Linked DNA regions of Homo sapiens: all the other regions are linked to region 3. Evidence: fine-mapped expression QTL. A gene starts in region 3. Each other region holds a variant in brackets. All regions are shown on one strand. Distances are between the middles of the regions.

Region 1 (2,848 bases), 90 kb before region 3:
CCTCCCTGTGTGTCTATGTACATCAGCTGTCCTCCTGAGATGAGAACGACCCACAAGGAAGTGTTAATCTGCAGCTGTGCTTCAGGGACAAATGGTCAAAGAACCAATTACCTCCTCATTTGCAATTGGCTATATTCTTTTTCTTTTGCCCTGCCTTGAATATATTTCTTGAATATAGACCAGTTAGAAGAGCTGCCAAGCTTTAACATATTTAATCCTAACTTCTGTGCATACACCATACAACATTAGAAATTCTGGTGGAAAATTTCCAGGACGAAATTTCTCTTAATGACTTCACTATTGCTAGAGGTTTTACTGATGTACAGAAGAGTTAACATAGCAAGCCTGATTGCGATGTTGGCCTTGGGCTGGTGTCTGGGAACTTGGATTTGAAGCGTGTCCCCACCATTCCCTAACTGACAAGGGTGGCCCATTCTGCCTAGACTATACAAACAGTGTGGTTTATGCTGAACACCTGCCTTCCTTTGGGGGGTCTGGAATTTTGGTACACGCTAGGCAGAGGGTGCCTTATGTGACTAGACCCTAGTAAAACTTTGGATGTTGAGACTCTAATGGGTTTCCCTCTAATAAGCAGAAACATTGAATGCTTACTGCTGGGGAAATATATTTTCATTGCTGAAGGAAGAGTGCACTGTGCAATTCCTCGTGGAGGGAGGGGGCAGTAGGATGCCTGCCCATGGATTTCCCCAGGCTCCACCTGAGTCTTTCTCCCTCCTCATTACATTGCCGTAATAAACCTTAGCCATGAATACAACTATAGTCTGGGTCCCGTGAGCCCTTCCAGTGACTCTCCAAACATAAGGTATCCTTGGGCACCCTCCACATGAGTAATTAGATTGACGAATCCCAATGTCTCCGATAGGGTCGAAGTCACTGGTGCCATCTCCCATCTATGTAACAAAGCTACTCAGTATGTCACAGAGAGTTTAATGAAGCCACTTGTTTAAGTTCTTACTTTTTTCTTTGTTGGTGTCCCCCTGAGCTGGAACTTGGGCATGAGCCCAAGAGTCTGGGCTGAAGTAAGATACAAGTAACCAACACTGAGCTGAGCACTCACTTTTCCCCTTGATCTTGAACCACTTACTGTCTTTGTGCATCTTAACTCTCTTCCATACAAAGCATTCCTTTCCTACAAAATTTCTCTGCCTCTCATATAAATATTTAAAAATTATTGGCCGGGTGCGGTGTCTCATGCCTGTAATCCCAGCACTTTGGGAGGCCGAGGCAGGTGGATCATGAGGTCGGGAGATCGAGACCATCCTGGCTAATACGGTGAAACCCCGTCTCTACCAAAAATACAAAAAAATTAGCCGGGCAAGGTGGTGGGCACCTGTAGTCCCAGCTACTCGAGAGGCTGAGGCAGGAGAATGGCATGAATCCGGTAGGTGGAGCTTGTGGTGAGCCAAGATCGCGCCACTGTACTCCAGCCTGGGCAGCAGAGTAAGACTCCATCTCAAAAAACAAAAAACAAAAAAACACAATTATTATTGTTAGGCTGGGTG[T/C]AGTGGCTCACACCTGTAATCCCAGCCCTTTGGAAGGCAGAGGCAGGTGGATCACTTTGAGCTCAGGAGTTCAAGACCAGCCTGGGCAACATGGCAAGACCACATCTCTACTAAAAATACAAAAATTAGCTGAGCTTGGTGGTGCGCACCTGTGGTCCCAGCTACTCAGGAGGCTGAGGCTGGAGAATTATTTGAACCTGGGAGGCAGAGGTTGCAGTGAGCTGAGATCATGCCACTGTACACCAGCCTAGGCGACAGAGTGAGGCCCTGTCTCAAAAAAAAAAATATATATATATATATATACATATATATAAAATTATTATTATTTTGGAGACAGAGTCTTACTCTGTCACCTGGGCTGAGGTACAGTGGTGTGATCATAGCTTTCTGCAGCCTCCAACTCCTGGGTTCAAGCAATCCTTCTGCTTCAGCCTCCTGAGTATCTATGACTACAGGCATGCACCACCATGCCCCACTCATTTTTTTTTTAAGTTTAGTAGAGATGGGGTCTCATTATATTGCCCAGGCTTGTTTTCAGATTCTTTTGAATGAAAAAATTAGGACACCACTGAGAGTTGCTAAAAAGTTCCTCCTAAGCGCCACCAGATGGATGCATCTGGTTATAAATCCAGGTAAGTAATCCAAATCAGCAGGTCCTACTCACCCTTACCCTTCCCACATAATTCACAAACCAAGGTAATAAGACCTCAAATAAGGAATGACGCCTGTTTCACAGTTCAGCATGACCAACAGCTGATATCTAAACAATGCCCCCAAGCTGGCAAGTAAAACCCAAACATAACCCAAAGCCATCTGTGGGTGGCTCCTCTGCCCTTCCGAGGTCTGATTAAATTGGAACAAATCCAAGTTCTATGTTCCATGATAGTCCAAAGTTCTCCCACAATGCCTGTGAGCTCCCTGGGCTTGCCTCCTCCTGCGTCCTGCTAGCTATTTTTAAATGTGAGCTCTATTTTGTTCCAAGATCATTAGGATATTTAGCCCCTTCACCAATTTCCACAAGAAAATTAATTCATTCCAATATTCAGAGGTTCCTTTTTTATTTCTTAGCCAGTGATTAAGGAATCCATTATGTAACCCAGAGCCATTCTCTCTACTCTTTTCTTAATTTTTCCTTCTAAAATGGGGAGTTCCATTTTCTTAATTTTTCATTCTAAATTGGGGAGTTCCAAATTTTTTTTCTCTCTCTCTCTTAGGCAAAGCAGTTCATGTCCTTCCTGGAAGTTTTAGTATCTGCCAGTACTGATGCCCAGTTTGCATTTTAAAAGCTCCTTCTAGCTGCTAGATGCTGAAAAGACTGAAAGGAG
Region 2 (2,500 bases), 43 kb before region 3:
CTGATTGGTCCTCCTCAGACTCTTGCTAGCTTTTCTTTACTCCAAATTAATATTAGAGTGCCCCAGGTCATGGTCACTGGGACTTTGCTCTTCTCTATCTACGCTTGAGCTATCCCTTAGTTAGCTCGTCTGGGCTCAGTATGCTGGGAGTTCCCATCTCTATCTCCAGCCTGGCTCTCCTCTTAACTCTAGGCTAGTATGTCCACCTGGATGCCTGATACACATCTCTGACATAACATCTTGAAAACTAAATATATTTTGATCTTTCCTGCTCAACATGCTCCATATTCAGACTTTACTATCTCAGTTATAACAATTCTATACTTCTAGTTTCTCAATCCAAAAGCCTTGGTCATCTTTGATGTCTTTCTGTCGTACCCATGTCTAATCTCTAAGGAGATTCTGGTGGTTCTATCTTCAAAATATATACAGAATCTGAACACTTCTCCCACCTCCCTGCTACCACCCTGGTCCAGGCACCATGCCTTCTAGCCTGGATGCTTGTAGTGTATCGGGGGAACCTGCCCCCAATATTTCAACATAGGTTCTTTCTATTTTTCATAAGTGTTGGCTGGCTGAGAAATAAAGAGAAAGAGTACAAAGAGAGGAATTTTACAGCTGGGCTGCTGGGGGCGACACCACATATCAGTAGGACCGTGATACCCACCTGAGCCACAAAACCAGCAAGTTTTTATTAAGGATTTTAAAAGGGGAGGGGGTGTACGAACAGGGAGTAGGTCACAAAGATCACATGCTTCAAAGGGCAAAAGGCAGAACAAAGATCACATGCTTCTGAGGAAACAGGACAAGGGCAAAATCAGAATTACTGATAAGGGTCTATGTTCACTGTGCACATATTGTCTTGATAAACATCTTCAACAACAGAAAACAGGGTTCGAAAGCAGAGAACCAGTCTGACCACAAATTTACCAGGGCGGAGTTTTTCCCCCACCCTAATAAGCCTGAGGGTACTGCAGGAGATCAGGGCGTATTTCAGTGCTTATCTCAAATGC[A/G]TAAGACAGACACTCCCAGAGCAGCCATTTATAGACCTCCCCCAGGAATGCATTCCTTCCCCAGGATATTAATTATTAATATTCCTTGCTAGGAAAAGAATTTAGCAATATCTTCCCTACTTGCACATCCATTTATAGGCTCTCTGCAACAAGAAAAATATGGCTGTGTTTTTCCCAACCCCGCAGGCAGTTAGACCTTATGGTTGTCTTCCCTTGTTCCCTGAAAATCGCTGTTATTCTGTTCTTTTTCAAGATGCACTGATTTCATATTGTTCAAATACATGTTTTACAATCAATTTGTACAGTTAACACAATTATCACAGTGGTCCTGAGGTGACATACATCCTCAGCTTACAAAGATAACAGGATTAAGAGATTAAAGTAAGACAGGCGTAAGAAATTATAAAAGTATTAATTTGGGAACTGATAAATGTCCATATTAAAATGAAATCTTCACAATTTATGTTCCTCTGCCATGGCTCCAGCCAGTCCCTCCGTTTGGGGTCCCTGACTTCCCGCAACAGTAGTGGACTCTACCTGGCCTCCCATCTTTGCATCCCTATAGACAATTCCCAATGTGGTGGCCATAGCGATCTGTTAAGGCACAAATCAAATCCTGCCGTTCTTATGATCCAAACCATGCAAAGCTCTGCATTTCACTTAAAGTAAACCAAAGTGCTAATATTCAGTAAGCTTACACAAAATCTGACCCCTGATATCTCTCTGATTTCATTTCTTAGTATTCATCCTCTTATTTACTTGGCCCAGTCTCCTCCACCCCTCTGTAACTGCTTGCTGAATTCTCTCACGTCCTGCAAGCCTTTGCTAAAAAGTGCCGTCTGGACTGGCACGGTGGTTCACACTTGTAATCCCAGCACTTTGGGAGGCCAAGGCAGGTGGATCACAAGGTCAAGAGATCGAGACCATCTGACCAACATGGTGAAACCCTGTCTCTACTAAAAATACAAAAATTAGCTGGGCATGGTGGCGTGCACCTATAGTCCCAGCTACTTGGGAGGCTGAGGCAGGAGAATCGCTTGAACCTGGGAGGCGGAGGTTGCAGTGAGTCAAGATCGTGCCACTGCACTCCAGCACAGTGACAGAGTACAACTCCATCTCAAAAAAACAAAAAGTGCCTTCCAGGTGAGGCAAGTTTTTAAATGGCCCTATTTTAAGTTGCATTCCCTCTTCATTCTTGATCCTCCATATCCCACGCCCCCCGACTTTTTTTGTTTTTTTTTTTTGAGACAGGGTCTCAGACACCCAGGCTGGAGTGCAGTGCCGTGATCATGGCTCACCACAGCCTTGACCCAGGCTCAGGGGATTCTCCCACCTCAACCTCCTGAGTAGCTGGGACAACAGTCATGTGCCACCACACCTGGCTAGTTTTTTTGTGTTTTTCGTAGAGAAGGGCTTTCACCATGTTGCCCAGGCTCCTATCCTACTTTTATCCATAGCAATTAATCATCTTTTAACATAATATATAC
Region 3 (2,848 bases):
ACTGTCTGATGACCTCACCTCTTGAGCTCTAGCTACCCGATTGACACTACAGCCATAAATTAGTATCTCCTCTCTCTCTACATACTCTCCTAGCCTTTGCACCAAGGCTATTCCCTCTCCTCGGAATGTTGCTTTCTTTCTCCTACCAAACTTTTATTCGTCTTTAAAGCCTGACTCCTTTCAACTGTCACTTCTGGTGTGATGCTCTGCTTGATCCCAAAGCACTCCTTTGCACACAGACTGCCCTGTGTTGCATTCATTCATTCATTCTATAAGTGACGGAGCAACTACAATGAGCTGGAACGAGACCAGGGGCCATGAGCTGCGGGGCCAGGCGTGGACAGGCCTGAAAGGGTCCTCACGCTCACAGAGGGTCCAGGAAATGACAATACAGCCGGAGCGGGACTACAATGCGACAAGTGAAGGATGTGACAGCCTCGCATTGCAACTACCATACCAATAACAACCCACTTCCGAGTACAGCGCCCGGCACACAGCAGCATGACGTCATTTATTCCTCTGCCAAATATTAGGCGCCCACCACGTACCTGGCGCCGTGCTGAGCACCTGGGGCTCCGCGATGACTAAGACACTCGGCTCCGTCTACAGGGAGTTTACATAGGAGGCCCGGTGAAAATGTGACGCAGCCAGAGGATCTCAACCAGAGGGAAGAAAAAAGGAGAGATTTCACCCCCCAGCGGTCCTCTGGCAATGTCTGGACACATTTTTGGTTAGCTCGACTAGGACGAGAGGTGGTACTGTTATCTAACGGGCAGAACCAGTGACGCTGTTAAACATCCTGCCACAACGGGAGAGCCTCCCCCTCACCGCCACACCACAAACAAAACAAGGCATTATCCCGCCCAAAATGTCAACAGTGCCCAAGTGGCGCAGGGAGGGATGGAGGGAAGCCAACAGCCCCATCCCGCAGCGGAGTGCGCACCTCCCACAGAAGCAGCAGCAGCGCAGCGCACAGCCCGTTGGTAGGCTGCTCCCGGCCCCCATCCCGCCCCAAGTGCGCCCTCGGAGCCGGCGACCCGGCCACGGCCCCGAAACTCGGGGCCCGGGACGACCAGTACCTGCATCAGCATCCGCAAACAGCACCAACGCCACCGCAAAGAGCTTCCAGAAGCTTGTCCCGCAGCGAGTGCGCGCGCAAGCCTGCGGGAACCACTGCGCCTGCGCAGAGGCGCTGAACCGGACTCCCCGAACGCGCTCGTGCAGCTTTCCGAAAGTCCGCGCTTTCCATAGGCTCCCACCTGCCTGTTGCGCATGGTCACTGGGAAGCGGCTAGTGGGCTCGGCTGCAGAATTATTGCTGCGCCAGAGGCTCAGAGGCCTAGAATCGTATGAGGTTTGCAGATCCAGGAGGCTCCATCTGTTTAGTAACCTCAGACCTTCCCTACCCGCTCCCATCACTTCCATTCCCTGAAATCTAAGGTGGAAAAATCCACCGCAGAAGCATATTACCGATGCATTTAATGCAAGCCATAATTAATGCCACAACTTGAGTTAAACACATATTAATCTTATGACTTCCACACCTGCCCCCATGGTCCAGTCCACCCTCATGGCTCACCTGGATTATTGCAATAGCTTCTTGATTATACCTTACTTCTCTTGGCTATTCTCCACAGCCAGACGGACGTTTTAAAAACGTCAAATTATGACCCTCCTTTGCTTAAAACCCTGCAATGGTTTCCCATTTCACTCAGAGTTAAAACCCAAGTCTTTATAGTGGCCTACAAGGCCTGATGGAATCTAGCCCCTGTAACCTCCCGCACCTCTTCCCCACTTTCCTGCTCCAATCTTGATAGACCCCTTCCTCTTCTTGTAACCTGCCAGGTACTTCCGGCTGACCTGCTCCTTCCCTAAGTGGCCATACGGCCCGCTCTCTCATCCCTTCAGGTCTTCTCAATGAAGCTCTCCCACCATTCCACTTAAATAGGAATCCCACCTTACTCTTGTTTCCTCTTCTAACATGCCCTATAGGTTTGTTAATTTTTTTTTTTACTACTTGTCCGCCTTCTCCAGTAGAATACTAATTTCAGAAGAGTAAGTATTTTTATTTCATTTGTTCTAGGTTGTGTGTTTAGGTCCTGGAACAGGACTTGGCCCATGGCAGGCACTCAATAGATATTTGTTGAGCTTATGAATGAGTATTTGCATGGATTATTGGGGGCATTGCAAAAAGGGCCAAAGAACTCCAGAAAAATTGTTTGGAGGGTTCTAATAACTGGATGATCCCTGAAGGGGTGGAGTTAGGAGAGAAAGACTAGATTCATTCTAGACTGAAGGAGCAAGGTGATTCAAGGCCCTGAGACTTCAAAAGGGCAGAGCAAGCTCAACTAAATGAACCACTCCTCTCAAAAGGAGTGGGCTTATCACAGGCAGCAAGTCAAGCTGAAGAGACAGGGCTGAGAATGGCCGGGCGCGGTGGCTCATGCTTGTAATCCCAGCACTTTGGGAGGCTGAGGCGGGTGGATCACCTGAGGTCGGGAGTTTGAGACCAGCCTGACCCACGCGGAGAAACCCTGTCTCTACTAAAAATACAAAAAATTAGCCAGGTGTGGTGGCACATGCCTATAATCCCAGCTACTCGGGAGGCTGAGGCAGGAGAATCACTTGAATCCGGGAGGTGGAGGTTGTGAAGAGCTGAGATCAGGCCATTGCGCTTTAGCCTGAGTAACGAGTGAAACTCCGTCTCAAAAAAAAAAAAAGAGAAAAAAAAGAAACAGGGCTGAGAATGAAGACAAAAGTTTTCTCAGTCCCGAGTCCCATGGCATATTCTCCTTTACCCACCTCCCCTTGGCTGGCTTTAGACGCATCAGGAAGAAGCTGGAGAAGGC

What was found.
Region 1: its variant is fine-mapped to the expression of ZNF483 in skeletal muscle (GTEx, PIP 0.92).
Region 2: its variant is fine-mapped to the expression of ZNF483 in fibroblasts (GTEx, PIP above 0.99). The same link has a PIP of 0.9 or more in monocytes.

What each region holds. Positions count from the first base shown.
Region 1 is chr9:111,613,149-111,615,996 of GRCh38, reverse strand. It overlaps the pseudogene LRRC37A5P. Among named protein-coding and RNA genes, the nearest start is that of PTGR1, 15 kb to the right of the region's middle. The variant T/C (reference allele first, on the strand shown) is at 1,524.
Region 2 is chr9:111,566,839-111,569,338 of GRCh38, reverse strand. All of the region lies in intron 9 of PTGR1 (prostaglandin reductase 1), which reads left to right. It also overlaps a transcript of ZNF483 not described here. Among named protein-coding and RNA genes, the nearest start is that of PTGR1, 32 kb to the left of the region's middle. The variant A/G (reference allele first, on the strand shown) is at 1,014.
Region 3 is chr9:111,523,494-111,526,341 of GRCh38, reverse strand. ZNF483 (zinc finger protein 483) reads right to left here and starts at 1,163. Exons shown (of 6, transcript NM_133464.5): 1 at 1,080-1,163. RefSeq lists enhancers at 1-499, 611-810 and a silencer at 911-1,260.